Linked DNA regions of Homo sapiens. The protein of the gene in region 2 binds, or shares a complex with, the protein of the main gene of each other region. Each region holds a gene or a part of one and is shown on either strand. Other genes may lie near its edges. The genes, in order: ZNF831, OGT, TAB1 and CSNK2A1. A codon is read from its position in the direction of its gene.

The links.
Region 1: the proteins of OGT (region 2) and ZNF831 are in contact, whole or in part, in a crystal structure (PDB 8FUF), measured with the Homo sapiens proteins. Residues at the interface, in NP_858058.1 of Homo sapiens: Phe723 (codon at 975), Ile734 (codon at 942), Met779 (codon at 725), Ile787 (codon at 701), Ile790 (codon at 692), Asn791 (codon at 689), Arg792 (codon at 686), Gly793 (codon at 683), Leu808 (codon at 638), Ala809 (codon at 635), Thr831, Arg832, Ser833, Gln834, Tyr835, Gly836, Leu837, Pro838, Glu839, Arg877; in NP_001371283.1 of Homo sapiens: Phe937, Ser938, Pro939, Lys940, Tyr941, Leu942, Leu943, Arg944, Leu945, Pro946.
Region 3: the proteins of OGT (region 2) and TAB1 are in contact, whole or in part, in a crystal structure (PDB 4AY6), measured with the Homo sapiens proteins. Residues at the interface, in NP_858058.1 of Homo sapiens: Asp441 (codon at 6,928), His506 (codon at 6,537), His508 (codon at 6,531), His509 (codon at 6,528), Asn567 (codon at 4,760), His568 (codon at 4,757), Pro569 (codon at 4,754), Gly641 (codon at 2,279), Tyr642 (codon at 2,276), Thr643 (codon at 2,273), Lys644 (codon at 2,270), Ala646 (codon at 2,264), Gln849, Phe878, Pro904, Val905, Ala906, Pro907; in NP_006107.1 of Homo sapiens: Pro389, Val390, Val392, Pro393, Tyr394, Ser396, Ala397, Gln398, Ser399.
Region 4: the proteins of OGT (region 2) and CSNK2A1 are in contact, whole or in part, in a crystal structure (PDB 3PE4), measured with the Homo sapiens proteins. Residues at the interface, in NP_858058.1 of Homo sapiens: Lys406, Asp441 (codon at 6,928), Leu502 (codon at 6,549), Pro503 (codon at 6,546), Ser504 (codon at 6,543), Val505 (codon at 6,540), His506 (codon at 6,537), His508 (codon at 6,531), His509 (codon at 6,528), His527 (codon at 6,474), Asn567 (codon at 4,760), His568 (codon at 4,757), Pro569 (codon at 4,754), Tyr642 (codon at 2,276), Thr643 (codon at 2,273), Lys644 (codon at 2,270), Ala646 (codon at 2,264), Gly664 (codon at 1,264), Thr811 (codon at 629), Asn815, Thr819, Gln849, Phe878, Pro904, Val905, Ala906, Pro907; in NP_001349699.1 of Homo sapiens: Pro340, Thr344, Pro345, Val346, Ser347, Ser348, Ala349, Asn350, Met351, Met352.

What each region holds. Positions count from the first base shown.
Region 1 is NC_000020.11:59,158,927-59,166,830, reverse strand, and holds the start of ZNF831 (zinc finger protein 831), read right to left. Parts: upstream 3,011-7,904; 5' UTR 2,624-3,010; exon of another isoform or gene 1,892-2,623; intron 1-1,891.
Region 2 is NC_000023.11:71,557,104-71,564,122, reverse strand, and holds part of OGT (UDP-N-acetylglucosamine--peptide N-acetylglucosaminyltransferase 110 kDa subunit), read right to left. Parts: coding exon 7,018-7,019; intron 6,929-7,017; coding exon 6,827-6,928; intron 6,631-6,826; coding exon 6,451-6,630; intron 4,857-6,450; coding exon 4,698-4,856; intron 4,536-4,697; coding exon 4,446-4,535; intron 2,349-4,445; coding exon 2,223-2,348; intron 1,277-2,222; coding exon 1,106-1,276; intron 994-1,105; coding exon 877-993; intron 795-876; coding exon 624-794; intron 1-623. UniProt on the Homo sapiens protein: Catalyzes the transfer of a single N-acetylglucosamine from UDP-GlcNAc to a serine or threonine residue in cytoplasmic and nuclear proteins resulting in their modification with a beta-linked N-acetylglucosamine (O-GlcNAc).
Region 3 is NC_000022.11:39,395,208-39,402,789, reverse strand, and holds the start of TAB1 (TGF-beta-activated kinase 1 and MAP3K7-binding protein 1), read right to left. Parts: upstream 3,011-7,582; 5' UTR 2,988-3,010; coding exon 2,955-2,987; intron 1-2,954. UniProt on the Homo sapiens protein: Key adapter protein that plays an essential role in JNK and NF-kappa-B activation and proinflammatory cytokines production in response to stimulation with TLRs and cytokines.
Region 4 is NC_000020.11:484,777-491,795, reverse strand, and holds part of CSNK2A1 (casein kinase II subunit alpha), read left to right. Parts: intron 1-1,914; coding exon 1,915-2,016; intron 2,017-3,017; coding exon 3,018-3,118; intron 3,119-4,220; coding exon 4,221-4,369; intron 4,370-5,333; coding exon 5,334-5,420; intron 5,421-7,019. UniProt on the Homo sapiens protein: Catalytic subunit of a constitutively active serine/threonine-protein kinase complex that phosphorylates a large number of substrates containing acidic residues C-terminal to the phosphorylated serine or threonine.

The DNA.
Region 1 (7,904 bases), on a different chromosome or scaffold from region 2:
CAATGAATATTTAAACCAACTGTGGTACATCCATATCACAGAACACTACTGAGCAATAAAAAGAAGCATACCGTTGACACATGAAACATTTGGATGAATCTCTAGAGAATTATGCTGAATGAAAAAAGTCAGTCCCCAAAGGCTACACACCACACTGAATGATTCCATTCATATAACATTCTTGAAATGACAAATTATAAAACTGGAGGACAGACTAGTGATTGCTTGGGGTTAAGGGGTTGGGGGGGAGAGAGAGAGGAGGAGAGCAGGAGGGATTTGGGGTGTCCACGACGCATCCTTGCGGTGACAGAAATGTTCTGTATCTTGACTATATCACTGTCAATATTTTGATTGTGATTTGCAAGATGTTGCTATTGGAGGAAACTGGGTAAAAAACACATGGGATCTCTCTGTATTTTTTTCTTACAACTGCAGGTGAATCTGCAATGTTCTCAAAACAAAGAGGCTAATTTATGAAAGTAATAAATACGTAAATAGAATCAAAACAGGAACAACCTTCCCAGTGTGTGAGTCAATGTTATTTACTGCAGCATCCATAGTGTATCTAGAACCGACCCTAGCCACGAGTACCACAGCCTACCCTTGGAGAAACACCGACTCTGCACAGACCATTTTCCTTTCATTTTCTTTATATCAACTCACTTTTTCTTATGTACCCTTATATATTCAAAGGAAAATTGACATCACTACCATTTACCATATCTGGAAAAGCTCCAACATTGCTATGAATACAAAGTGATCATAAAGAAACTACAAGGGGCTGGGTGTGGTAGCTCACGCCTGTAATCTCAGCACTTTGGGAGGCCGAGGCAGATAGATCACCTGAGGTCAAGCGTTAGAGACCAGCCTAGCCAAAATGGCGAAACCCCTTCTCTACTAAAAATACAAAAAAATTAGCCAGTTGTGGTGGTGAGCACCTATAATCCCAGCTACTCAGGAGGCTGAGGCAGAAGAATCGCTTTAACCCAGAAGGTAGAGGTTGTAGTGAGCTGATCATGCCACTGCACTCCAACCTGGGTGACAGAGCGAGATTACAGCTCCAAAAAAGAAAAAAAGAAGAAAAAAAAAGGAACTACAAGGAAAGCAATGAAAACATACAAAGATCTCTCACTTGGTAACAAGCCAGTACTGAGAACAAGCTTCCTACCTATGCCCCAAAGTCACTCTGCAGAAATCCCTGAGTGTGACCTTCCAGCATAACTCAGCCTTCCCTGCCATGCCACACCCAGACAGGCAGCATGGTGGGTAAAGTTCCCAGACCCTGGAGATAAGACCTGTCTTTGAACCTTTGCTCTGCTACCTATAAACCCTGTAACCTGGAATAAGTCACTTAAACTCTCCATGCTGTGTTTTCCTTATCTGAAAAGTGGGGCTCATGTTCATTTGTTCAAAGGATTGGATAAAACCATAGATGTGATTTGTCCAGACGTGGTAGACTCTCCCTGTGTCTGTTCCTGCCCCACTCCCCTAACCAAACAGCCTACCCTACCTCCCTTTTACAGTCTTGGTTCTCTGCTTACATGATGTTCATGGTCTCTACCAGGAGAAAAGTCTCTCTAGCTGGTAACTCCACGGCGCCTGATAGTGAGCCCATTTCCCCTAGGCAGGTGCTTTTGGGTAACCCTGCTCACATGGCACTCCTCCTTCAGGACCAACCCTCCCCAGCTTCCCAGCGGAAGCACAGCTAAGGAAGCAAATCTCACAGACCCCAACATTGCCACAGAACCTAAGTGTTCTCTCTGATTAATATTAGCCTATGGTCCTAAATACTTGCTCTTAGCTGGGGCAATAAAGCGAGGGTGGTTAAAAGGCATATTATTTTAAACTGGCCCTGACGTTGATTCTGTTTTTCCCAGTCAGCTAATGTTACCATTTTTCTAAGTTGCATCCTGTCCCTCGTTGCATTTTGGTAGATAACATCTCTGGTTTCATTCTTACAGAAAGATTTGCTACGGGAAAGGAGAAACACGTTACCTCTCAGAGCATGGCTTCCATGGCTGATCTGAGATAGCCTCCAGCTCTTTGCTATTTTGGATACTGGGAAGTCAGATATGTGTATAAATACATGGACTATTGGCCCTTGTAAATCTCATTGAAAAATGCTACCCTTGGGTGGCTGATCAGTAGAATTGCTATAAATAGTAGCTCTATCAAATACCTTGATATTTCAATTATATTATATACAAATAAAAAACTTGGCCTAATAAAACATACATATATATGTGTATATATATACCACACATACTTGGGCTAATATGTTCTAACCAATTCACACTTTCAGTTTAATTAGGTTCATCACTGGGAAAAAAAACAGTTTATAAAGCAATAAATTTTCTTATAAATGTTTTTCTGTTTAGTAGAACATGGATTGTGGACCTGGTTTCTGACAGCCATTTTGAATTGTAGTAAATATTTTGACAAAAGCAACAGCAGTATTAAGCACATGAGAGAATTACTTGAACTGGGTCACACACAGTTTTACGTAGCATTTTCCCTTTAACTGCGTGCTTGAAGATAAATATATCATTAAGAACATAGAGTAAAAGAGTTTTTTTTTAACTGACATTTTATATATGCTTATGTCATGGAGCATGTTACATACCTTTATAAACAGTGGAGTGTTTTCAGCCAATGATGCTCTGATTCAAACACAATGATCTGGTTGCCCAGAGAAGACACCCACAGGTCCAGAAAGGACCACTGGGCTGGCCCCACAGAGAAGAGATGAGCTCAAGAGCCCGTGCTCTCACTCTCTGTAGGGAGCTCGCTACTCTTTGCTGAGAGGGCATTTTAGTGTTCTCTCCCAGTTCCTACTCTGCAGGCAGCATCTCAGAGAACGGAGAGATGCTCCCTGAGCCTTAGAAAATAAAATAAAATAAAAGAGGGCAGCCTCCTGTGGCTTGGCCTTTATGTCAAGTCCACGTTTAACTGAGAAAAGCACCATTTCAAGCAACCTGGAAGAGACTCAAGCAGAGATAAAACTTGGTATGGCCCAGAAATAGGAAGTAAATTATTTCCTATACATTACCTAACGTCACGGTAGCAACCCTTAGAAAACAGGAAGAGATAGAAGCAGACACGAAAAAAAAAAAAAAAGAGCCACCGCTCAGCTCTTTAGTAATTGTTACTATTGACCTAACAACCTATAAAGAGCTTGCTGCCCAGAAATGTAGGTGTGCAAAAAAACATTGCATTAGAGATGAGGTTGTTCTGTGCAGGCAAGTTTAAGAATTAGAGCCTAGGTGGTCGTTTTCCTGGAGATGTGGATGGAACAAGTGTTTGCAGAACCTCCACATGTAACCCCAGAGGTTCCTGAGGGCCCAGAATGAGCATTTCCACTGCAATTGACTATGGTGGGAGGTCCCAGTGAAAGATTTCTGCGATGCTGTCTTTATGTAAAATGGTGATATTTTGTTCAACATGGATTTGTTTGAATTAGGTTTTATTTTTAAGATATGGCACTGATCACTCTATTCAACATAGTACTGAAAATCCTAGCCAGAGCAATCAGGCAAGAGAAAGAAATAAAAGGCATCCAAATAGGAAAAGAGGAAGTCAAGTTATCTCTCTTCACTGATGATATGATTCTATATCTAGAAAACCCTAAAGTTGCCACCAAAAGACTCCTAGACCCAATGAATGACTTCAGTAGTTTAAGGATACAAAAATCAATGTACAAAAATCAGTAGCATTTCTATACACCAGTAATGTTCAAGCCGAGAGCCAAATCAAGAACACAATCCCATTTACAATAGCAACACACACACACACACACACACACACACACACACACACCTAGGAATACATCTAACCAAGGAGGTGAAAGATCTCTACAAGGAGAACTACAAAATACTACTGAAAGAAAACAAACAAATGATAAAACACTCCATGCTCATGGATTATAAGACTCAATATCATTAAAATGTCCATACTGCTCAAAGCAATTCAACACTATTCCTATCAAATTACCAATGTCATTTTTCACAGAATTAGAAAAAAACTATTCCAGAATTCATATGGAACCAAAAAGGAGCCCGAATAGCCAAAGCAATCCTAAGCAAAAATAACAAAGCCAGAGGCATCACATTATCTGACTTCAAACTATACTACAAGGCCACAATAACCAACACAGCATGGTATTGGTATAAAAATAGACACACAGACCAATGGAACAGAATAGAGAACCCAGAAATAAAGCTGCACACCTAAAACCAACTGATTTTCAACAAAGTCAACAAAAATAAACAGTGAAAGAAAGGACCCCCTATTCAATAAATGGTGCTGGGGAAACTAGCTAACCATATGCAGAAGAATGTTGAATAGAGTGATTAGTGCCACTCTAATTCCAGAATGAAACTGGACTCTTACCTCTCAATATATACAAAAATTAACCCAAAATGAATTAAATACTTAAATGTAAGACTTCAAACTATAAAAATCCTACAAGAAAACCAAGGAAATACTCTTCTGAATGTCAGCCTAGACAAAGAATTTAAGACTAAGTCCTCAAAAGCAAATGCAACAAAAATAAATATTGACAACTGGTACCTAATTAAACCAAAGTGTTTCTATGTAGCAAAAGAAATAATCAACAATGTAAACAGACAACCTATGGAATGGGAGAAACGATTTGCAAACTATGCAGCCAACAGAGGTCTAATATTCAGAATCTATAAGGAACTTAAACAAACAACAACAAAACCATTAAAAAGTGAGCAAAGGTCATGAAGAGACACTTCTCAAAAGAAGACATGCAAGCAGCCAACAAGCATATTTTAAAAATGCTCATCATCTCTGATTATCAGAGAAATGCAAATCAAAACCACAATGAGATACCATCTCACAGCAGTCAGAATGGCTATGACTAAAAAGTCAAAAAATAACAGATGTTGGTGAGGTTGCAGAAAAAAAAGGGAACACTCACACATTGTTGGTGGGAATGTAAATTAGTTCAACCCCTGTGGAAAACAGTTTGGATATTTCTTAAAGGACTAAAAGTAGAACTACCATTCGACCCAGCAATCTCATTACTGGGTATCTACCCAAAGGAAGATAAATCATTCTACCAAAAAGACACCTGCACTCGTATGTTTATCACAGCACTATTCACAAATAGCAAAGGCATGGAATCAACCTGGGTGCCTGTCAACGGTAGACTGGATGAAGAAAAAGTGGCATATATACACCACGGAATATACAAAGCCATAAAAATAATAAAATCATGTATCCATGCAGCAACATGTAATCCCATGCCTGTAATCCCAGCACTTTGGGAGGCCAAGGCAGGCGGATCACTTGAGGCCAGGAGTTTGAGACTAGCCTGGCCAACATGGTGAAACCCCATTTCTACTAAAAATACAAAAAATTAGCCGGGTGTGGTGGTGCACACCTGTAGTCCCAGGTACTCAGGAGGCTGAGGCAGGATAATAGCTTGAACCCAGGAGCCAGAGGTTGCAGCAAGCTGAGATCATGCCACTGCACTCCAGCCCGGACTACAGAGCGGGACTCCATCTCAAAAAAAAACAAAAAAAAACAAAGACAGTGAGAGTGACTGTAATGTATGGGGTTTCTTTGGGGGTGTTGAAAATGTTCTGGAATTAGATCACAGTGATGGTTGCACAACCTTGTGAATATACTAGAAGCCACTGAATCCGACACTTTAAAAGGGTGAATTGCATGGTATGTGAGTTATATCAATTCAATATAACAAATAAATCCATCACTCCCATTCTAATTTTTCTAAGCACCATGGTACAGATAGACTCTCCAGAGCATGCAACCAATAACCAATGAACTAAGCATGTGGCAACAGTCACCAAAGAAAAAGAAAAATCATTTCCAAAGAATTGTTAACTTGCTTTCTCAGGCCCTTTTTTCTGAAGGAAACAAACAAACACAAAGATATCTCACTCACTTGCCAAGAGCAAGCCTCATTCGGAAAACTGCAGTCTGCATTGACTATTCTTTCAAACAAAACTACCTCATGCAGCTAGAAAAAAAAAAAAAAAGCAGCAAAACCAGGAGGAGACATGAGAAATCCTGTGTGTCCGAGGGAGACTCACGGGTAGAAAGAATAACTCTCTCATTGGCCATGCCCCTCTGGTCTTGCACCATCAGACACACATGCCAGTCCAGAAGCTGTGGTCAGGAGGAGCAGGGACACCCTTCACCTTTGCAGTTCAGTCCCTGGGCCCTTCTCCAGACCCCAAATGTGCAGTCACGTGGCAGGAAGCCCCAGGGAGAGGGGCTGGAGCAGCGCTCTGAGTGGAGCCACCTGGTACACTCAGGGCTAAGTGTGTGGCTGGGTCTCAGCAGGAAACTCGGCCTTGGGGAGCCAACGCAGCCTCACAAGCAAGCTGGGGATGAAGGAGCACCTCTGGGGCCTCAGAGGAATTCGATCAAGAGCGTCCATGAGACAAGCCCCCTGGGCTCCTGCACGGCCCCTCGCCACATCCTTCCTCCCCCCACCATCATGATCCTCTTCTGGGAATTGAACTCATGGCCCCAAGAGTATGTGTCAAATAAATGAATGGGAATAGATGGATATTTCTTGTGTCTATTTTAACCCTCTTATATATACCAAGGAACACAATTTGTGAAGACCCAAGTCCTCCCAAGGTCAGCCATGATGGGTGGTCCTCTCTCCTCTTCTGGAGTCTCCCCAGGGCTGGGCACCTGACAGCCTGTCTTTCGTTCCTGTGGATCCGTCCATTCTCTGGTCTGTGGAGCTTGGTGTCGTGAGCGACTGTAGGAATGTTCGTCTCTGCCTTGGCTGTGCCTGGCCTCACAATGGAACCCAGCATCCAGCACAGGGCCTGGCACAGAGCCAGCCCTCAGTCCACACCTGCTGAATGACAGAGAACTGCGACTCCCTCACTTCCCTGAACTTGCTGGAGAGACCACAGACTTACGCACCAGGTGGAAGCTGATGCCAAAGGCTCCAAAGCACAGTCTATATTCCAATGCAGGTGCTGTCATGCCTTGTCCTGTGGGGGAGGCAGCGGAACCCAGGGCTCCTCTCTGGGGCTCAGCAATGCCCTGCCTCGGGGAGGCACGCACTCCGCTTTCCACTGAAGCTGGTTCCCTCTTGGGGTTTGGTTCCCCTAACATCCACCGCATGCTCTCTCCATTGTCAGAAGAGGTTGATCATCACCAGCCCTGTGCGAGGGAACAGGAAGCTGAACCTGAGGAGCCCCCCTCAGGAAGTAACACTCCTCAGATGTGCGACATTGTGCTGAGGGCCACCGCTCTCATCTCCGTGCATATAGGAAAGTACCTCCCCCTGGAGTGTCATTGGATGAACACCCCATGCAATTATCTGCTTGCACATCCTCAGGGCCACCTCAGCGATGTTTTTATTTAAGGCATGATGCATCCACCCCGTTTTTGATTATCCATGGTAATGGGGGTCAAGGATCAGCTGAATAATTGAAAAGGAAACTTTATTCCCACTGAGAGTTCCTCTCCTCTCCACCTCCTTCCTCCCTTCTGCAGCATCCAAACAGGGAGAGGGGCGCTGTTGGGCCATGGAAGGGGTACTGGGTTGCTAGTCCTTATCTCAGCCCCACCAGGACTTTGTTAGGGATTTGCTTGGTGTTAAGCAAGCCTGAGCTTCTTGGTGGGTCTGTGAAGTAAAGGGCTGTACCACAAGTCATCTGTATTTATTTTCATAACACACCTCTTCAAATTGACTTGCTTTTATCATTTAATTTGTCCCAAGCTATAATAATTGATGTGATATTTTTTGTAATATTCATTAAAATAACTCCATAATTATGGCACTTGAAAAAAGTTATATGAAAAATCACCACCCACCCTGGCTTGGATCCTGGAACAGAAAGAGACATCAGTTGACAGACTGGTGACGTGCACATAAAGTCTGG
Region 2 (7,019 bases):
TCTAGAGGTCAGAGATCTTTGCCTTACACTCTCTTGATAGAGCTACTTATTTAAGCATGCAATATATTATTTATTGAGTACATACTACATTACTGTGATTAAGACATGGGCTCAGTAATTCAATTCAGTAGAGGATACAAACACAGGGAATTATCATCTGTTGTGCTGTATGTAATGATATATTCCAAACATTACAGAGGTATAAAAGACAGGTACCAATGAAGTAGGGATGGAGACGTTAGCGGTAAGTACGGAAATGGATTCCTGGAAGAGCTGTCTGAACTGAACGTTTGAGTAGGATTTAGCTAGGGAAAGGATGGGTTTACAGAAGCAAGAAACTGTATGGAATCTACACATAGTTCATCATGTAAGAGAGTAAAGCCACAGGCAGGGAATAACAAGATATTAACACAGCAGTTTCTCAGTAAGTAATAATCTGCTGGCTGAATCCAGGAGACTTTTAAAATCAGACACACCTATATAAGATGCACGTTTCCACTAAACTCATTTCCTCATCCATAAAAATGGTGATAATGATACTTGCCTCCTAGAGTTATCATGAGGTTAAGGGAAATAAATGCATACTTGGCGGGACATATAATGGTGTATTATTATCTTCTCACCTGAGTAGTTGCCAGTCCATTGCTAATACTGAATCCATTAATTGTTATTTGAATCTGTCCTCGGTTAATCATTTCAATAACTGCTTCTGCAATAGTATTCATAGGAATAACAGGCATATTAAGAGCTGTGTTACTGCTATCTGCATTGTCTCCTCCATCAGGACACTTCATCTGAAAAAAAAATGCATCATTAGGGAAAAGATCGTGAATGCAGTTAACTTTATTTCAATGACAATACTGACTAGGTTCTGACCTTGACAATTTTCACATCTGGTAGACTATCAAGAAATGCTTTGAGGTCGATGCCATTCAGAACTATCCGATTGTCATAAATGTGCCCATTGGACTTAAAATCGATGACTGCTTTTTTCTAATGGAAAAAATAGTTTCAGACATGTCTTTTAGGATTTACATAGACAATAGCAAGGAAATAAAAAGCTACAGTTCTTTGAAATTCGTCCATAGCACTGTTTCATACCTACCTTCAGGTGAGGGAACATATTAGCATGATCACCAATAAAAAAAGTGTGGGGCATATAAGCCAATTTCTCGGAATACTGCTCAGCAACTTCAGCTGGCGAAGTTTCCTGATCAGTGATAATATAATCCATGAAAAGCGCACCACTCGTCCCAGGGTATCCCAGCCACATTGCCTTAAAAAAATCAGATCAAAAACTGATTAAGAACTTTTATCAGTACACTTACCTCTAAATTCATCAAGTCACATACATTAAATATGTACAACTTTTTGTATGTCAACTGTACCTCAATAAAGTGGTTTTTAAAAAAAGAACCTAAAGGTGCCAAAATTAAATAAGTAAATAAACAAGGAGGTCTAACTCTTTTTTAGAGACAGGATCTCACTCTGTTCCCTAGGCTGGAATACAGTGGTGCAATCGTAGATCACTACAGCCTCAAACTCCTGGGCTCAAGCAATCCTTCTGCCTCAGCCTCCAGAGTAGCCAGGATTACAGGCACTTGCCACACGCACAGCAAGGCTGACTTCTTTAGCCGAAAGCAATGAAGCAGTTCTATAAGAGAGACTCTTACTCTGTCACCTGGGCTGGAGTGCAGTGGCATAGTGATAGTTCACTGCAGCCTCAAACTCCTAAGCTTAAGCAATCCTTCCACCTTAGCCTCCCAAATAGCTGGGATCACAGAGGCACACCACCACTCTGGCTAATTTTTTAATTTTTTGTAGAGATAGGGTGTTTTGCTTTGTTGCCCAGGCAGGACTCAAACTCCTGGTTTCAAGAGATCCTCCTGCCTAAGCATCCCAAAGTGCTGGGATTACAGGCGTGAGCCACCATACCCGGCCTGTATTTCAGACTAACTTTCAAAATGCTAAAATGTTCTTCAAATTTGCAAGACAGAGTAACTGTTCATAGCCAACCATGAATTGCATGTCTCTATATACATGTACCTATAAGCACTGTGCTCTACACTCTTTTTGTCCTGTGCATTTCAACAACTTAAAAAAATTAAAAGTATGTCTGCCCTACAGTTTCAAATATCAGTTAACCAGAGGGAGGAAAAGCAGCACCTCACTGTATTCTTAGCCAAATACATGTTATAAGTGATGACTGTTAATTTGTTTACCTGAATAGGAGCTGGCCTGAGAGCAAAAAGCTCATTTCGAGCGCCCTTAGTATAGCCATTCATATTTACAAGGATATGAATTCCATCCTGATGGATGCGATCAGCTGCTTTTCCATTGCATGGAATCTACAGAATACAAAATAAGAACTCACTATGTATAATCTCAGATCAATTAGTTTTAATGACATTTAGTTTTAATGGCATTTAGTTTTAATGGCATTTAACATAATTCAGATTCCCAGATGGAAAAGAGGTAAGAACACAAATTAACTACATTAATTCGGGCACAAATATGGTTGACTGTCATTAAAATGGGCCCAAAGCATTAAAGAAACAGAACACAAAGGAAGGAGAGTTCACTTCTGGATTGAATGTATGAATAACAACATATCACAGAGAAATTGGTATTTGAAATTTGTAATCTTTTTTTTTTTTTTGGTAGGGATGGGGTCTCACTATGTTGCCCATGATGGTCTCAAGCAATCCTTCCACCTCAGCCTCCCAAAGGATTATACACGTGAGCCACAGCACCCAGCCTAGAATTGGTATTTGAAAATAGGTCTTCAAAGACGAATAGGAGTTTGAAGGAGTTTAACAGAATACAATCTCAGTAGAGAACAGTATGAATGAAGAACTAGAGTAAAGTGTGAGGGAGTTTAGAAAATGGTGAGTAGGCCGGGCATGGTGGCTCACATCTGTAATCCCAGCCCTTTGGGAGGCCGAGGCAGGTGGATCACCTGAGGTCAGGAGTTCGAGACCAGCCTGGCCAATGTGGTGAGACCCCGTCTCTACTAAAAATACAAAAATTAGCCGGGTGTGGTGGCAGGCGCCTGTAATCCCAGCTACTCGGGAGGCTGAGGCAAGAGAATCGCTTGAACCTGGGAGGCAAAGATTGCAGTGAGCCGAGATCGTGCCACTGCATTCCACCCTGGGCGACAAGAGCAAAACTCCATCTCAAAAAAAAAAAGGGTGAGTAATTCACTTCTATTTAGTATAGGGTATACAAGATGTTGAATGGTGAGTTAAAGTATTGACAAAGTTGTGGCAAACAGAGAAAGGTTACAAAAGCTATGCTGAAGAGTTTAGACTGCAATCAATCAGCAGTGAGTCCCTAAAGGTCTCAGAGGTAGAAAGAGGTATGCTTCTTGGTCACAAAGAGTCCAACTGTGTATCAAAAATGGCCAGGTATACTTTTGAAGCAACAGCTATACTGCAAAATTTGTTAGTACATACTATTTATTAAATGAGAAGTCTCAAAACCTTTCTGCTAGGACTTCAGTGATTCATATATATATACACATACACATGTATATTTATACATATATGCATACATATCATACCTGCATGTGTATGTACATACATACATGTGTGTACACACACATATAAAGAGTATATTATCTCTATTAGTCAAAGTGGCTAATAGAGTCTACAAAGAAAACACTGTAGCCTACATACTCAGCAAATTAATTCCCCCATAGGTTTCAATCTTAATTTATCATAAAACTTACTCTCCTAGAGGATACAACAATAGAACAAGTACAGAAATAAAGATAACCAAAGGCAAAGGCCCATGGAAACTGATGAACCATAGTTCATCTATTTTTTCTTTTTTTTTTTTTTTTTTTGAGACAGAGTCTTGCTCTTGCCAGGCTGGAGTGCAGTGGTGCGATCTCAGCTTACTGCAACCTCCGCCTCCCGGGTTCAAGCGATTCCCCTGCCTCAGCCTCCCAAGTAGCGGGGATTACAGGAATGCACCACCACACCCAGCTAATTTTTTGTATTTTAGTAGAGACGGGGTTTCACCATGTTAGTCAAGATGGTCTCATCTCCTGACCTCATGATCTGCCCGCCTCGACCTCCCAAAGTGCTGGGATTACAGGCATGAGTCACCACACCCGGCCCTATTTTCTTTAAAAGACCTATTTATTCTTCTCCCAAGTCACCATTTTGTCAATATTTATTAAGTATCTTCTGTCACAAGTGCTGGCTCAATCTCCAGAAAAGTTGTATGTCCAAGCACAAGCATAACACATTTCAGTTTCATTTGCAACCTCGGAAAAAGCCATGCTGATTAACACAAATGATCAAGGAAATAAGATCAACACAATTGCCTATATGTGGTACTACAGCATTTAATACTTATCATCAAAAATAAACTATATGCTAATAGTTTTATTTAAACTTGCTCAAAATAAAAAGTTAAAGTATGAGAGTTTCATCTACCTGAGAAAGATCAATGAAATGATTGGCTTCTGCCATCACCTTCACTCGGAAGTTTGTGCCATCGTCTGGGCTCAGGGCATAACAGAACACCTGAAAGGCAGCACATGGCATATTTAATAACATTGGCTCAAATCTTTCTGGCTCAAATCTTTCCAAAAGACACTAGGTTTCCATGCCTCATGGTGACAAGCCAACATTGTGGGTTTTTTCTTTTTTAAACAAATAGTGATTCTAGAGAAACACTAGTCTTACCTCAAATTTATCAGGATTGTGCATGCCTGGAATAGACTGCATAAGGTGAGAAGTAGGATGATTCCCAAAGTCGGAACTCACATATCCTACACGCAGCCGACCATCACTGAGCTTCAAGTCTTTTGGATGTTCATATGGTGGTTTATGAAGAACATTAATCTATCAACAGAATCCAATGCTTGTTAGTAAAATCTACATAAATTTTCATCTAGGAAAACTGACGAAAAACACACCAAACCTATACCTCACACCTGTTGAAAAAGGTCTGCCCAGAGCATTTAGTTAATATTGCCAGAGAGATGCAACCTCAGCACTTTATGTAATATGCTTCATACTTTGACCTGCTCCTGAGATCTATAAAGCATGAGCAAATCCCAGCGCTCTGGGAAGCCAAGGAGGTGGATCGCTTGAGGTCAGGAGTTCGAGACCAGCCTGGCCAACACAGTGAAATCCAATCTCTACTAAAAAAAAAAAAAAAAAAAAAATTAGCTGGGCGTGGTGGCACATGCTTGTAGTCCCAGCTACCTGGGAGGCTGAGGTGGGAGAATCGCCCAAACCTGGGAGGTGGAGGTTGCAGTAAGCCAAGGTTGTGCCACTGCACTCCAGCCTGGGCAACAGAGCAAGACCCTGTCTCAAAAAAAAAAAAAAAAAAAAAAAAAAGTACGAGCAAATCTAACACTTGTAGGTATGAAGCAGTATGGACAGAGCATGGTTTCCTCCCGCATTTTAGAAAATTCTATAGGGAAACATTTTCTAAAAACAAAATTATGGCTGGGGGCAGTGGCTCATGCCTGTAATCCCAGCACTTTGGGAGGCTGAGGCAGGTGGATCACCTGAGGTCAGGATTTCGAGACCAGCCTAGCATGGCAAAGCCCTATCTCTACTAAAAATACAAAAATTAGCCAGGCGTGGTGGCACACGCCTGTAATCCTAGCTCCTCGGGAAGCTAAGGCACGAGCATCACTTTAACCTGGGAGACAGAGGTTGCAATGAGCTGAGATGGCACCACTGCACTGCAGTCTGGATGACAGAGACACTATGTCTCAAAAAAAAAAAAAAAGTACACCTAGCACTCCAATCTATTATCCAACCTTTGATCCAATCCTTGATCAAGTACTGCTCTAATTCTCAAAGGTGAATACAAAATACCAAGCACTCCATTAAACATGATGGCTGGCCAGGCGCGGTGGCTCACACCCGTAATCCCAGCACTTTGGCCGGGCGAGGTGGGCAGATCACTTGAGCCCAGAGGTTCAAGACCAGCTTGGGCAACATAGCAAAACCCCATCTCTACAAAAAACACAAAATTAGGTGTGGTGGCATGCGCCTGTAGTCCCAGCTACTCAGGAGGCTGAGGTGGGAGGATCACCTAAGCTCGGGGAGGTCAAGGCTGCAGTAAGCCATGATCACACCGCTGCACTCCAGCCTGGGCGACAGAGCAAGACCCCGTCTCAAAAAAAAAAGAAAAAAAAGATAAAAGAAAAAAAAATTATGGCTTTCAACTTAAAGAAAAGTACCATCAGTCTATCATTAGTGTTTAAGTGAAGGAGTTAAGGATTCCGTCTTATGAAGTGCAGGGGGTTATACTCAGGACACAATGGAAGGGGTTCTGAAGTGGCCCACAAAAGTTTTATTTCTCGACTTGGGTGGTGTTCACTTTATAATCGTTCATTAAGCCACAGATTTGATTTTTACAGTTTTCTGTATTTGTGTTTTAGTTTACAACAAAAAGATTAAAACAAAAGAATCACACCTTATCTAAGCACAGGTTGCCGTGCCTCTCAGCAATAGCCTTCCTGAAGCCATGAGAAAGAGGATATAGCATACTATGATGAGGATGCACAGAAGGCAACCTATTCTTCTCTAACTGGTCAGCCACAATACTGACCAACTTCTTCATTCGCTCATCATAGTCTGTCCAATCACAGACAATCTAGAGAAAGCAAAAACAAGTTATTATCCAGAAAGTCCTATCCCAGGATTTAATATTTGATATGTCTTTGGCCTAAAGTAATGTCAGATAGCCTATTAAAAATACTATTTCCAGTCAGGCTTGGATTCTTATGGCATACAACAATTAAAAAGCTATTACAACACTGAGAGCCAATTACTGGCCTGTTATTCTTTACCTGCAGGCAATGAGCCAAGTTACAATAAGCATCAGGAAAATCAGGCTTAAGTTTCAGAGCCGTGCGGTAAGAAGCTATGGCTTCTGGAATATTCCCTGAATCCTGGAAAATAAATAAAGCAGGATGGTAAAAAATTTCCAAAAGTTAAATTTTAGGTGTTAAACTGCACATATTATAATAAACAGTAGTACCT
Region 3 (7,582 bases), on a different chromosome or scaffold from region 2:
GCTTGAGGCCAGGAGTTCATGACCAGCCTAGGCAACGTGGTGAAACCCTGTCTCTACTAAAAATATGAAAGTTAGCTGGTGTGGTGGTGCACACCTGTAATCCCAGCTACTTGGGAGGCTGAGGCACAAGAATCACTTGAACCCACGAAGCAGAGGTTGCAGTGAGCCGAGATCACACCGCTTCACTCCAGTCTGGGTGACAGTGAGATCCTGTCTTCCCCATACACCCACAAAAAAGCTTTTTGCTTCAAAAGACCTTTCAAGGTACCACAGTGCCTGCAATGATGCTCCCACCAAGTGATCTACCAAGTGGCCCCAGCATACCCTTGCAAATGCCATTCCTGCAAACCTCCACTGACCCAGACCAATCAGGCCACTCTGCAGCCCCTCAACACATAGACTTGTAGTACTAATTGTACTTAACTTGTGAAAAGCTTAACAAACACATGCACACATATTTAAACACCTGTCCTTAGCCAGATGCGGTGGCTCATGCCTGTAATCCCAGCACTTTGGGAGGCGAAGGCAGGAGGATTGCTTGAACCCAGGATTCTAGACCAGCCTGGGCAACATGGCGAAACCCCATCTCTAGGAAGAAAAATGAAAACAAAAACACACGTGTCAAGAAAACACACATACACATCCTCCTGGAATGGCCCTCCTCTCCTCTGCTTGGCAAACTCCTCTCATCCTTTAAAGCCTCTAAAATTCTCTGCTGTCTGCCCAGGGCTCTTGACACAGGTCTACAATAACAAGACAGTGCCCCAGGTATTGTATCAGTGGCATATGCTCCTCCCAAGCTGATCTACAAACGCAGTGAGGGTGGGCACCACGCCTCATTCATATTTGCCCAGTAGCCACAGACCAGCAGCCCTCACAGCCATCTCTGAATGCAGGTGTCTGAGCTGAGTTGTTCTCCCCAGACTTGAGACAGTGGATGTGACATCAGCAAGCCCTACACACCACCTGGACATCCATACAACCTGTGAGAGGGATGTCCTGATCATCATGAGGGCGGAGGGGCCTTCTGATGACATCCCTGCCATCCCTTTGCCACGCACCAAGATGCAATGTGTTTAAAGCTAACTATTCTTGCTTTAAAAAAGGCCACCACCACCTGGAGAAACACATTCTGGGGCTAGTAGAGCTGGCCTTCTGCCTAACACAATTCCCTTTGGTTCCATCACATCTAGGAAGGGGAGAAGCTGGCAGCCACCTACTCTACATGACCCAGGTGGCTGCTCTCTTCTCAGCAAGCCAACTCAGCCTGCACCATTTACAATTTTCCCTCCCAATGTCACAATCCAACCAGCGTTTCCCAAATGCTAACTAGAGTGGGGACAGTTATACAGGGACCTTGCCCTCTGGGAACTTACAAAGCAGAGGGCCAGCCGTCTAAAATCAATGCCAACTCGGTAACAAGACAGACGTGCCCAGCAGTAATAAAATAAAGGAGTAGTAAAGGTGTGGAGGGGAAGACAGCAATCCCCACTGGGGAGGCCTGGGAACTGTGCTCCTGGGAGAATAATTTCAAGGCTCTGGTTCCAGGTTATCCCTGAGCCAATGTCTACTCACCTCTGTGACGCCAAGGGCGAGCACTGGACCTGGCTACAAACCTTTACTCATCCTTTCACAAATGTATTTATTGAGTGCCCAGCACATGGTGATAGATAATAGAGACACAGCGGTAAACAAGAGATCACAGGTCCCTGTCCTCAAGGAGTTTACTTTCGTTTTTTTTTTTTTTTTTTTTTTGAGACACAGTCTCGCTCTGTCGCTCCAGGCTGGAGTGCAGTGGCCCGATCTTGGCTCGCTGCAAGCTCCGCCTCCTGTGTTCAAGCTAATTCTCCTGCCTCAGCCTCCCGAATAGTTGGGACTACAGGCGCCCCCACCACGCTCGGCTAATTTTTGTATTTTTAGTAAAGACGGGGTTTCACCATGTTGGCCAGGATGGTCTTGATCTCCTGACCTCGTGATCCACCCGCCTCAGCCTCCCATAGTTCTGGGATTACAGGCATGAGCCACCGCGCCCGGCGGAGTTTACTTTCTAGTACAGGAGGCAGACAAGTCCATAGACAATTCTAACAGTGCCATGCATAGGAAGGACCCAGGAGGCCAGCACCCTACCCTGGTAGGTCAGAGTAGTCCATGGTGCCAACATGTGTGTGCATCTATGTGCACATACGCGTCAGAGGACGCAGGGCCTGGAAGACAGCGCCAAACCCATGAGGGTCCAGACCGGGGGTAGGGATGAGTCTGAAGACAATTCTTCCACTCAGCGCTCTCGCCTTAGGAGAAGGAAACTGAGGCTGAGGGAGACACAGTCAGAGCCAGGACCAGAACCCAGTGACAGCTACCACTGGTCATTCCTTTAGTACAGCCCAGGGGTTAAGGGGGTTTCTGGAATCACACTGCCTGATTTTAATCCTGCCTCAATACGTACCATTTGTGTGGCCTTAGGCAAACGACCACCTCAGTGTCTCAGTCTGTCAAATAGGAATAACAGTAGCACCTATCTCAGGGGGCTGCTACGAAAATGAAACTGACAAATGTAAAGCAATTAACACAACGCCGGGGATGCAGTAAGCGGTACACTGTGGATGCTGCTGTTATTATCATTGCACGTCTGCTCGGTGTCGCAGTGGGCTCGAGACTCGGATAGCTCTGCTGCCGCCCGCCGTGTTCCCTTCTGGCTCCAGGACGCTCCCGCCCTCGACGCCCGGCAGCAGCAGCCCACAGCCCCGGCGCCCTTGACCCGGGGGCCGGGCCCGCCGCGCACACACGCCCTGGCCTCGGGAACGAGGGGGCCAGCCCGAGGAGAGGAGAAGGTGGCTGACACACCCCACCACGGAGAGGGTGGCTGTCCAAACTCGGAGAAGGAGCCGTTCCTGCACCCGACAGCACCCCCGCCCAGGCTCCCAACCCCAAGCCCAGAGAGCGGGCCTGTTCCTCACACTCTGCAGCAAGCTCCTCCTCTGCGCCGCCATCTTGGAGGAACCCCTGCGGGAGCGCCCGCCTCCCCGCAGAGCAGCGAGTGGGGCGGCTAGAGCGGCCCGAAGGAGGCGAGGATGACCGCGCTGCCGGGGAGCATGCGCCCAGCGCCACCCCACGCCCGAAGAGGGATGGGGGTCGTAGCGGACCGTGTGCGCAGGCGCGCTCTTGCACGTTTTGTTGTTGTTGTTGTTGTTGTTGTTTTGTTTTGTCTTTTCCTCGGGGCCGATTGCTCCTCGCCCATCTTTATTATTTTTTGAGATAGGGTCTCACTCTGTCACCCAGGCTGGAGTGCAGTGGCGCGATCACAGCTCCCTGCAACCTCTGCCTTCCGGCCTCAAGCGATTCTCCTTCCTCAGCTTCCCGAGTAGCTGGGATTACAGGTGCCCGCCTCTCCTGCCCCAGCCTCCGGAGTAGCCGGGACTACAGGCATGAGCCACCACGCCCGGCTAATTTTTGTATTTTTAGTAGAAACGGGGTTTCGCCATGTTGGCCAGGCTGGTCTTGAACTCCTGAGGGTTCTTTGTGAACACAGTTGGTAAGGGGAGGACAATTCATTCACTCAGCAAATGCTACCTAGGTGACCCTGCTTGGCTCTATAGTGGGTTCTGCAGCGAGCAGGACAGGCCTTCAAAAAGCTAACATTTTATTTTATTTTATTTCATTTCATTTTATTATTATTTTATGTTATGTTATGTTATGTTATTTTTGAGACGGAGGCTTGCTCTGTCGCCCAGGCTGGAATGCAGTGGCGTGATCTGGACTCACTGCAACCTCTGCCTCCCGGGTTGAAGCGATTCTCCTGCCTCAGCCTCCCGAGTAGCTGGGGTTACAGGCGCCCGCCACCACGCCCAGCTAATCTTTTACATTTTTTGTAGAGACGGAGTACCGCTATGTTGGCCAGGCTGGTCTCAAACTCCTGGCCTAAAACGATTCTTCTGCCTGGGCCTCCCAAAGTGCTGGGATTACAAGTGTGAGCCACCCCGCCCAACCTAAAATGTTAACATTTTAATTGGAGAGGACAACATTTATGTATATAAGACATTCTGCCGGGGGCAGGCGCGGTGGCTCATGCCTGTAATCCCAGCACTTTGGGAGGCCGAGGCCGGTGGATCACCTGAGGTCAGGAGTTCGAGATCAGTCCAGCCAACATGGTGAAACCCCATCTCTACTAAAACTACAAAAAATTAGCCAGGCATGGTGGTGCACGCCTGTAATCCCAGCTACTTGGGAGGCTGAAGCAGGAGAATCACGAACCTGGGAGGTGGAGGTTGCAGTGAGTGAGCTGAGATCACTCCACTGCACTCCAACCTGGGCAACAGAGTGAGACTCTGTCTTAAAAAAAAAAAAAAAAAAAGCACACTTGTCACGGGAGCCCACTGTGGCTTGCACAGAGTTGGAGGAGAGAGATGAAGGGGTTGTAGGGACAGGCTCTGACCAAGTGGGCCCCAGGCAGGAGTTTATTCATCTGGAGGACAGAGGGAAGTTGTTGCCTTCTAAGCAAGCCATTGACAGGGTCCCATTGGTAGAGAGATGTTTGACTCCCAGGTTCAAGCGATTCTCCTGCCTCAACCTCCCAAGTAGCTGGGATTACAGGCATGCGCCACCACGTCTGGCTAATTTTGTATTTTTAGTAGCGATGGGGTTTCTCCATGTTGGTCAGGCTGGTCTTGAACTCCCGACCTCAGGTGATCCACCTGCCTTCGCCTCCCAAAGTGCCGAGATTACAGGCGTGAGCCATTGCACCTGGCACCTGCCTGCTTTTTATAAAATTAAACAAACATTCATTTGCAAGCCATCTCTCCCTGACCCCCACCATTTAAAAAAAAAAAAAAAACAGGTTCTCACTGTGTTGTCCAGGCTGGAGTGCGGTGGCACAATCATGGCTCATTGCAGCCTCAAGCTTCTGGGCTCAAGTGATTCTCCCACCTCAGTCTCCCGGGTAGCTGGGACTACAGCATGTGCCACTGCGCCCGGCTAATTTTTGTATTCTTGTAGAGACAGGCTATCACCATGTTGCCCAGGCTGGTGTCAAACGCCTGAGCTCAAAAGATCCTCCCGAGCTGGGCGCGGTGGCTCATGCCTGTAATCCCAGCACTTTGGGAGGCCGAGGTGGGTGGATCACGAGGTCAGGAGATCAAGACCATCTTGGCCAACATGGTGAAACCTCGTCTCTACTAAAAATACAAAAAATTAGCCGGGTGTGGTGGCATGTGCCTATAGTCTCAGCTACTTGGGAGGCTGAGGCAGGAGAATCGCTTGAACCCGGGAGGCGGAGGTTGCAGTGAGCCAAGATCGCGCCACCGTACTCCAGCCTGGGCGACAGAGTGAGACTCTGTCTCAAAAAAAAAAAAAATTAGATGGACATGGCAGTGTGTGGCTATAATCACAGCTACTCGGGAGGCCGAGGCAGGAGAATTGCTTGAACCTAGGAGGCGGAGGTTGCAGTGAGCCGAGATCACGCCAGTGCACTCCAGCCTAGCAACAGAGTTAGACTCTGTCTCAAAAAAAAAAAAAAAAAAAAAAAAAGATTCTCCCTGCTTGGCCTCCCAAAGTGCTGGGATTACAGGCATGAGCCACCGCGCCCGGCCACCACTGTCTTTGTTTTTAAAACCCCTGCCTCCCAGGGATGTTACAAGGATTCAATAAAGTAACATCTTCCAAGCCTTTAGAACAGGAACAGAATCTGCTCCAAATATGTGGCTTCTCTTCCCTTCCCCAGACCCATTTCCCCATGATCATGCCATATGCTTCTACCATTTCACCTTGGGATGCTGCCAACAGTTCCAAAAACACAGAAGGTGCTTCTGAAGGCTGCGCCATTGGGCGCCCCAACTGCTTTTCGGCCAGTTATCACCTTTATCAAGATATCCTTGCTCATCAGGCCTGTGACAAACTGAGTGGAGCCAGAAGCCCAAGAGAGGGGGCAGTTAATTCTGCTGGGGGAGTCAGGGAAGACTTCACAGGGGAGGTGACCTTCCAGCTGGGTCTGGGAGGGCAGAGGGATTGAGCAGAGAAGATAGAAAGCGCATCTCAGGCCAAGGGATCGCATGGTCAAAGTGAGGGGGGAACTGGCAAAGGCAGAAATTGACTGTGGCCGAGCTGAGGAGAACAAATCAGGGAGGGATATGGGTGCAACAGAAGCAATTGGCTTTATCTTGTAAGGGTAGGGACTCATTTAAGTGGGAGAGTCACATGATCATATTTGTGTTTCAGAGGGATCCCACTGAGTCAGACAGGAAGCAGGGAGACCAGTATTAGGAGCCTGCTGGGATAACCCAGATAAGAGAAGGAAGGAGGTGGCCGGGACCAGGATGGTGGCCATGAGGATAAAAGAAATGGACAGTTTTCAAAAATATCCAAATAGGTCAAGTAGAAAGACTCTGGCAGTTGATTGGAAGCGGAAGAAAGGGGAGTGGAAGATGACTCCCAGGTTCCTGGCCCAGGCCGTCGGCCCAGTGGTGGAGGATCTGCCGAGACAGGGCCACTAGAGGAGGGCCAGGTCTGGGCCTGGCAGGTAGACAGAGAGCGCAGGGGGCAGAGAGGATGCTGAAACATTCACAGTGTGCAAAGCAGCATGTTACTCTATGCATTTGAGGCATCTGCTATGGAAGAGGAGAACCAAGGCAGTGACAGAAGGGATGGTTTGAGAAATATTTAGGATGTTAAGTCAACAAGATCTGGCGTATGCTTGGGTTTTTGAAAAGAGGGACAAATCTGGGATAATACCCAGGGGGATGACTGGTAGATGATGGTGCCTTTTACTTAGATGATGAGCACAGAGAAAGGAGGAGATTTGGTGGGAAGATTCATGCGTTAATTCAACAATCCTCAATAGAGCACTTAGTACATGCCAGGTAAGCAGGGACAAGAACACTGCCCTTATGAGACTTCCACATTCGGTGAGGAGAGATAGGTAATAAATAAACTAGTAAGTATGTCAGGTGGTGACAAGTGCTATGGAGGAAAACAAAGTGGAGGTGGGCTGCCTTTTTTTTTTTTTTTTTGAGATGGAGTTTTGCTCTTGTCGTCCAGGCTGGAGTGCAATGGCATGATCTCGGCTCACCGCAACCTCCACCTCCTGGGTTCAAGTGAGTCTCCTGCCTCAGCCTCCCGAGTAGCTGGGATTACATGCACACAACACCACACCCGGCTACTTTATTTATTTATTTTTTTTTGAGACAGGGTCTCACTCTGTCACCCAGGCTGGAGTGCAGTGACGCAACCACAGCTCACTGAAGCCTCGACCTCCCAGGCTCAGGTGATTTTCCTGCTTCAGTCTCCCGAGTAGCTGGGACTACAGGTGTGCCACAACACCTGGCTAATTTTCCATTTTGTTTTTTGTAGAGACAGGGTTTTGCGATGTTGCCCGGGCGGGTCTCAAACTCCCGGGCTCAACTGATCTGACTGCCTCGGCCTCCCAAAGTGCTAGGATTACAAATATGAGCCACTTGGCTGGGCGTGGTGGCTCACGCCTGTAATCCCAGCACTTTGGGAGGCCGAGGTGGGTGGATCACGAGGTCGGGAGATTGAGACCATCCTGTCTAACACAGCGAAACCCCGTCTCTACTAAAAAATACAAAAAATTAGC
Region 4 (7,019 bases), on a different chromosome or scaffold from region 2:
CCCACCACCACCCCAGCTAATTTTTCTTGTATTTTTAGTAGAGACTGGGTTTCACTGTGTTAGCCAGGATGGTCTCGATCTCCTGCCCTCGTGAGCCACCACGCCCGGCCTTTTGTTTGTTTTCTGAGGCAGGGTTTTGCTCTGTTGCCCAGGCTGGAGTGCAATGCCATGATCATAGCTGACTGCAGCCCCGAACTTCTGGGCTCAAGTGATCCTTCCAGCTTAGCCTCCTGAGTAGCTGGGACTACAGGCGTGCACTACCACACCCAGCTAATTTTTAATTTTTTTGTGTGTAGAGAGAAAGTCTCACTATGTTGCCCAGGCTGATCTCAAACTCCTGGGCACAACCCATCCTCACACCTTGGCTCCCCAAAGTGCTGAGATTACAGGCATGAGCCACCATGCCCATCCTGTAACTAAGTTTAACCAATCTTCAGAGTAAATTCAAGAATGTTTTCTTGTTCTTCTGAATTGTATACTAAATAAAAAGGTCTTCTCCCCAGCTCCCCCAAAAAGCCTTCTTTCTCCTCACAGAAAAAGGAGAAAGGAACCAAATTAATAATAGATTTGCCAAGTGTTTAAAAATCTGAAGTTTTCTTGGGAGTATCTTTTATGCCCAGTCTTTCCAGGTTATTATCAGTTGATTTTAAAAGTTTCAGACTTTTTGTTCTTGTAGGAATTTCTTTCTTGGGGTCTTAAGGCTATAGCCCTGAGTTCAAAAAGCATTTTATGCATAAAAATAGTTTTTACAGTATTACTAATAATTGTGAAAAACAGAACACTGTCCTATTATAGGAAAATTAAAGATTGAATTCTGAAACATTTATGTAATAAAATACTAATGATACACATTAGATGGTCTCCATGGGCTAACAATTTGGAGGTTTTTTTTTTTTTTTTTTCATGTAAGTGAAGAAAACAATTCAAAATAGTATGTATATTAGCTGAGCATAGTGGTGTATGCCTGTAATCCTACCTACTCAGGAGGCCTAAGCCCAGGAGTTGGAGGCTGCAGTGAGCTATGATCACGCCACTACACTCCAGCCTGGGCAACAGAGCAAGACCCTGTGTCTTTAAAAAAAAAAAAAAAAGAGCCAGGCACAGTGGCTCACGCCTATAATCCCAGCACTTGGAAAGGCCAAGGCAAGTGGATCACAAGGTCAGGAGCTCAAGACCAGCCTGGCCAAGATGGTGAAACCCTGTCTCTACTAAAAATACAAAAAAATTAGCCAGGCGCGGTGGTGGGCGCTTGTAATCCCAGCTACTCAGGAGGCTGAGGCAGAGAATTGCTTGAACCTGGGAAGCTGAGTTGCAATGAGCCAAGATCACACCCCTGCAGCCTGGGCGACAGAGCAAGACTCTGTCTCAAAAAAAAAAAAAAAAAGTAAAAATTGTTTTAAAACCGAGTGAAAGATGCATAAAAGAAAAAACTAAAAAAAAAACTAAAAAAAAAAAAAAAAGAAAAAACTAGCCAGGCACGGTGGGTCATGCCTGTAATCCTAGCACTTTGGGAACCTGAGGCGAGCAGATCATGAGGTCAGGAGTTTGAGACCACTGGCCAACGTAGTGAAACCCCGTCTCTACTAAAAATACAAAATTAGCCAGGCATGGTGGCACGCGCCTGTAGTCCCAGCTAGTCAGGAGGCTGAGGCAGGAGAATTGCTTGAACCCGGGAGGCGGAGGTTGTGGTGAGCCAAGATTGCGCCACTGCACTCCAGCATGGGCAGCAGAGTGAGACTCTGTCTCCAAAAAAAAAAAAAAGAAAGACTAAAAAGAAATATATGAAGATGTTATTAGTGTTTTGATTTTGAGTCAGTGGAGTGATTTTTTTTTAATTTTAAAAATTAATTTTTTATTTTGAAGTGACAAGCCTGAGGATTCACAGATAATAACAGTGAGTTTACTTTTATGCAGATGTACGATTATAGTTTGGATATGTGGAGTTTGGGTTGTATGCTGGCAAGTATGATCTTTCGGAAGGAGCCATTTTTCCATGGACATGACAATTATGATCAGGTAATATATGTTATACCCATTGAAAAATGTACTGGCCTAATGCAATGATAGCCAGCACTGCCTGTAACTTTCAGTTCACTGTTTATTCAGCCACCCCGATATTGATCCTTAGATTGATGTTTCGGGAGCTACCAGCTTAGCCTTTTGAAATCAGACATTCCCCCCTAGTCTTTGTCATTTGCATTGCTTATTTTATTGTGAAGAATACATATAAATTGTCATCCAGATTTTTAAAATAGGACATTACCTTAGAATTCTCCTAATAAACCCTTATCTCCAATATGGTGTTTTCTCCAATATGTGAGCCCATATGTGGTATTTCTGTGATCCTTTTGGCTCTTTATATGGGTTGAGTTACAGATGTTTCTTAAACTAACTCCACTTCCCCCTTGAAGATCAAAGGGCTCTTTCATTCACAAGAACCTGGAATGATTCTAGGACCTTGTGGAAGGTACCATTGTCTTGTTCCCTTTGAGCACCATGTCCAATTTTAATGAGTCAAAGAATACAACCTGAATTCCATTAAAGTCAATAACTCTGTATCAAGTGCATGCAGTACTGAGGAATACAGAAAAAAGAAAGAATAGTTTTCTTCCCCTCAGATAGTTCATAGCTGATCTTGTAAGGGAGTCAAACATACAACAAAATAGGTTACAGTCATAACTTCAGAGTAGAAATGTGGACAAGGCACAAAAGGCAGTAGTGGTGAGTAGTTTGAGTGTGCAATGGGAGCTTCCCAAAAGAAGTGACATCTTCAATTGGGTTTTGAGGGGAGAAAAATAAGGGTTCACCAGGGTGACATTTCAAGAGGAAGAAACCAGTTTATAAAGTAGTTTGCTTTTTCTAACACTATCACATTGAGTTGAAGTCTAAACTGTTAGGAGGTAGCATTCATACCTGTAGACATGATGACCCGTTTATGTAAATTCAATCATTGTTAATTGTTGATTTGTTAATATAATATGCTTGTGATATGGGTTTTTGTCTTTCTTTAATACTAGTTGGTGAGGATAGCCAAGGTTCTGGGGACAGAAGATTTATATGACTATATTGACAAATACAACATTGAATTAGATCCACGTTTCAATGATATCTTGGGCAGGTAAGTCATGAAACAAAATATGTGCATCTGTGGCTTAAGCACTTTGAGAGTGAACTGGCACTTAGGATCTTCAAAATAGTTATGTTTTCTTTGCCAGCACTGTCAGGATGTCAGTGGTCCAGTGCCACAGGATGCTGCATTGAGCAGGCCTCTGATAAAGGCATTGGATTGAATGGCCCTTTATTCAAATTAACTTACAGGAGTCTGATGGAGGGGTTATAGCTAGAGGATTCCTACAAAATGAATGTAGATTCTAGTAGAAGGGTTACAGTTGAGGCAAAAATCAAAATTTACCTTGCTTCTTTAAGTGAAAAACCTCTCTCCAAGAGAAAGAAATTGAAGTAGAAAATGCATGCTTTAAGACTGATGTGCAGGCTGGGCACGGTGGCTCATATCTGTAATCCCAGAACTTTAGGAGGATCACTTGAGCCCAGGAGTTGGAGACCAGCCTGGACAACATAATGAGACCCTCGACTCCATGCATGGTGATGTGTGGCAGTAGTCCAGACTACTAGGAAGCTGAGGCAGGAGCTTCCCTTGAGCCCAGGAGGGAATGCTACAGAGAGCAATGAACATGTGGCTGCGCTCCAGTCTGGGCAACAGAGTGAGACCCTGTCTCCAAAAAAAAAAAAAAAAAGGCTATATGCAGACAACCGACTCTTAACAGTAGTGACTAGATATAGTACTTATACACTTAACCACTCAACAGGAGGAGATGGACTTTCCTGATGCAAAGGCTTTTGCTGGCCAATTGGCAGAGATGCCAGGAATATGTGTGGGGATGGGAAATAGGCCTGGTGAGCTCAGCCACCTGACCCTCCTTGCTACACAGAAGCGGTCACGTCCTGTCAAGTAACCTGAATTATGTTTCTTAAAATTGAGAGGACTCAGATGTCTTTTTTCACTCTAGCTATGTTGTTTCCAGTCTCCAGTTAGCTTTGTTGTCCCACTCAGTGGCAGAGCGGTGCAAGACTACCCTCTTGAGTTTGGATCCCTCTTTGCTTTTGTCTGGGCTGTTAGCCACTAAGAAAAATGTAGGAATGAAATGTTGGGCTTCTGTGCCCACGTGGCCCATTTCTCATGCCCTCTTTTGGTCCTGCAGACACTCTCGAAAGCGATGGGAACGCTTTGTCCACAGTGAAAATCAGCACCTTGTCAGCCCTGAGGCCTTGGATTTCCTGGACAAACTGCTGCGATATGACCACCAGTCACGGCTTACTGCAAGAGAGGCAATGGAGCACCCCTATTTCTGTGAGTCCAGATATCTAGCCCACAGAGTTTGTGCAGGCGCAGAGTCCTATAGAACAGAGTCGTAATCCCAGCTCCTGTCAGCTTGCTGCAAAGTTAATTCACCCACACTGAGCCTCAGATTCTTCCAGTGGGGATAGTGATGGCAACTACATTGCAGAATTACTGGAAGAATTCTTCTGTAACAGAATACATGACACAAGAGCATTCCTAAATAAACTCTTTTCATACTGTGAGGATGACACTTCTCAGTGCCTCAGTCTGGAATGGTTGAATTAGAATACACAGCCCTGTATCTTTCCTGTCCCTAGTAATCATTCGTTGGAAAGAGCTAATGAGGCTTACAAATCTTAAAATTGTATGAACACCTTGACTTAGATTTGTGAGTATAGCCACCTGTGCCATCCTAAGTGAAAATACCACTGAGACCCACCCCATCTGCACTGTGATGTTAGCTGCAACATGACATTTTTCCTTCGGTGTGATGGTTTTGTACTGAATCATTTATACTTTTGCCCAATACCTGAAGCAGATAGATAGGCTGATTGGGATAGAGAATGTGGTCATAGCCCTAAGCTACATGGACCTATAGCTTTGGCCTACTTGGTACTGGGCTGTGGACACACTGGTAATATATTACCGTCTTTGCCGAGTTACAGTGTCTTGTCTCCATTAAACCTCAACAGGACCAGGGCTTCATTAAATTCGCTCTGCTATAAATAATTACCTCATCTTTCTACCATTTGATTGAAAGGTTAGCTTTTACCACAGTTTGATAGGAAAGCTATTTCTGCTTTTTACCACTTGTCTAATTCATGGTGAAGGCAATTGCCACCTTAAGTTCTTTGGGGAATAATGTAGAGTATATATAAATTGCAAAGAATGAAGCTGGCTGCTTTCAGGCTTCCAGACCATTAGTTTAATCTTTCAAGCAAAACAGAACCTAGCCTTTTTGTCTCTTTTCTAGACACTGTTGTGAAGGACCAGGCTCGAATGGGTTCATCTAGCATGCCAGGGGGCAGTACGCCCGTCAGCAGCGCCAATATGATGTCAGGTCAGTTCATTGGTAAATTTTCTTTAAAAAAATGTGGAAGTCAATTACTGTTCTTAGCTTTGTGGTCTGATTTCTTGTATACCTTCTCTTCTCCGTACTGGTGGCCTTGTGACTTTTTTTTAACCAGGTTTCAGCATGCTTGACATTTGGTATACTTTAGTGATACTGTCTTGAGTAGGGTATCCCCTTCTAGGCTAGAATCTCAGCATTCCTGGCTGAAAATTTTTGGCATAGGGGCTTGAAAGTGCCAAGCCATGAAAAGGAAAAATACACCATTTCATCTTATAGTTTGAAATGACAGTAGTTACATGGCCCTTAGAAACAATGTTAAGAAATGGGGTATAGAGGTGGGGTTTATACATAGGTGTGTATGTGTACAAGGACAGTTCCGTGACATGTGCCAGAGCAACTATAGAGTGCCTATCAGTTGTAAAAACATAAGTAAAATGGTTTTCCATTATTGGATCATTGTGACGCACAGTGAATTTTTATAGAGTACCCAGTTATTCCAAAGGAACTACAGGCACATAGCATAAGAATTATACATATAGGCAACATCCAAGTGGGTGCATATCTGGTAGTGAAGGCATTTACTTACATATCCTCAAATAATTGCTGTTGCCCTCCTCTTTTTTAAGAAAAGAACTAACTGCCTTCTAGAATTTACCCCTTGAGTATCCTACCTCTGTACAGAGTAATGTATATCCAAACTTACTTGTAGCCTTATTTGTAATAACAAAACATTGAGAATAGCTATCAGTAGGAAACTGGTTAAATCAGTTATGGTATATCCATTTAATGGAATGTGGTGCAGCCAGTAGAATAAGAGTTTCATGTTCTGTTAGATCTCCAACTCCAATATAATAATGTGAAATTTAAAACGCAAGATGCAGGGCCAGGTGCAGTGGCTCATGCCTGTAATCCCAGCACTTTGGGAGGCTGAGGCGGGTGGGTCACTTGAGGTCAGGAGTTCGAGACCAGCCTGGCCAGCATGGCGAAACCCTGTCTCTACTGGAAATACAAAAAATTAGCTGGGCGTGGCGGCGGCGCCTTTAATCCCAGCTACTTGGAGGCTAAGGCAAGATAATCGCTTGAACTTGGGAGGCAGAGGTTGCAGTGAGCCGAGATCGCACCGTTGCCCTCCAGCCTGGGTGAGAGTGAGACTCTGTCTCAAAAGAAAAAGTGAGATGCAGAGCCATGTCTAAGAGGAGTGGAGAAGAATGTATAATAATGTTCTCATATATATATATATATATATATATATATTTTTTTTTTTTTTTTTTTTTTTTTTTTTTTTTTTTTTTTTTTTGGAGACAAGGTCTTGCTCTGTGGCCAAGGCTGGAGTGCAGTGGCACAATCTCAGCTGCTGCAGCCTCCGCCTCCCGGGTTCAAGCGATTCTCCCACCTCAACCTCCCAGGTAGCTGGGACTACAGGCGCCCGCCATGACGCCCAGCTAATTTTTGTATTTTTAGTAGAGATGGGGTTTCACCATGTTGGCCAGGCTGGTCTTGAACTCCTGACCTCAGGTGATCCGCCCAACTTGGCCTCCCAAAGTGCTGGCATTACAGGCGTGAGACACTGCACCTGGCCTTTGTATA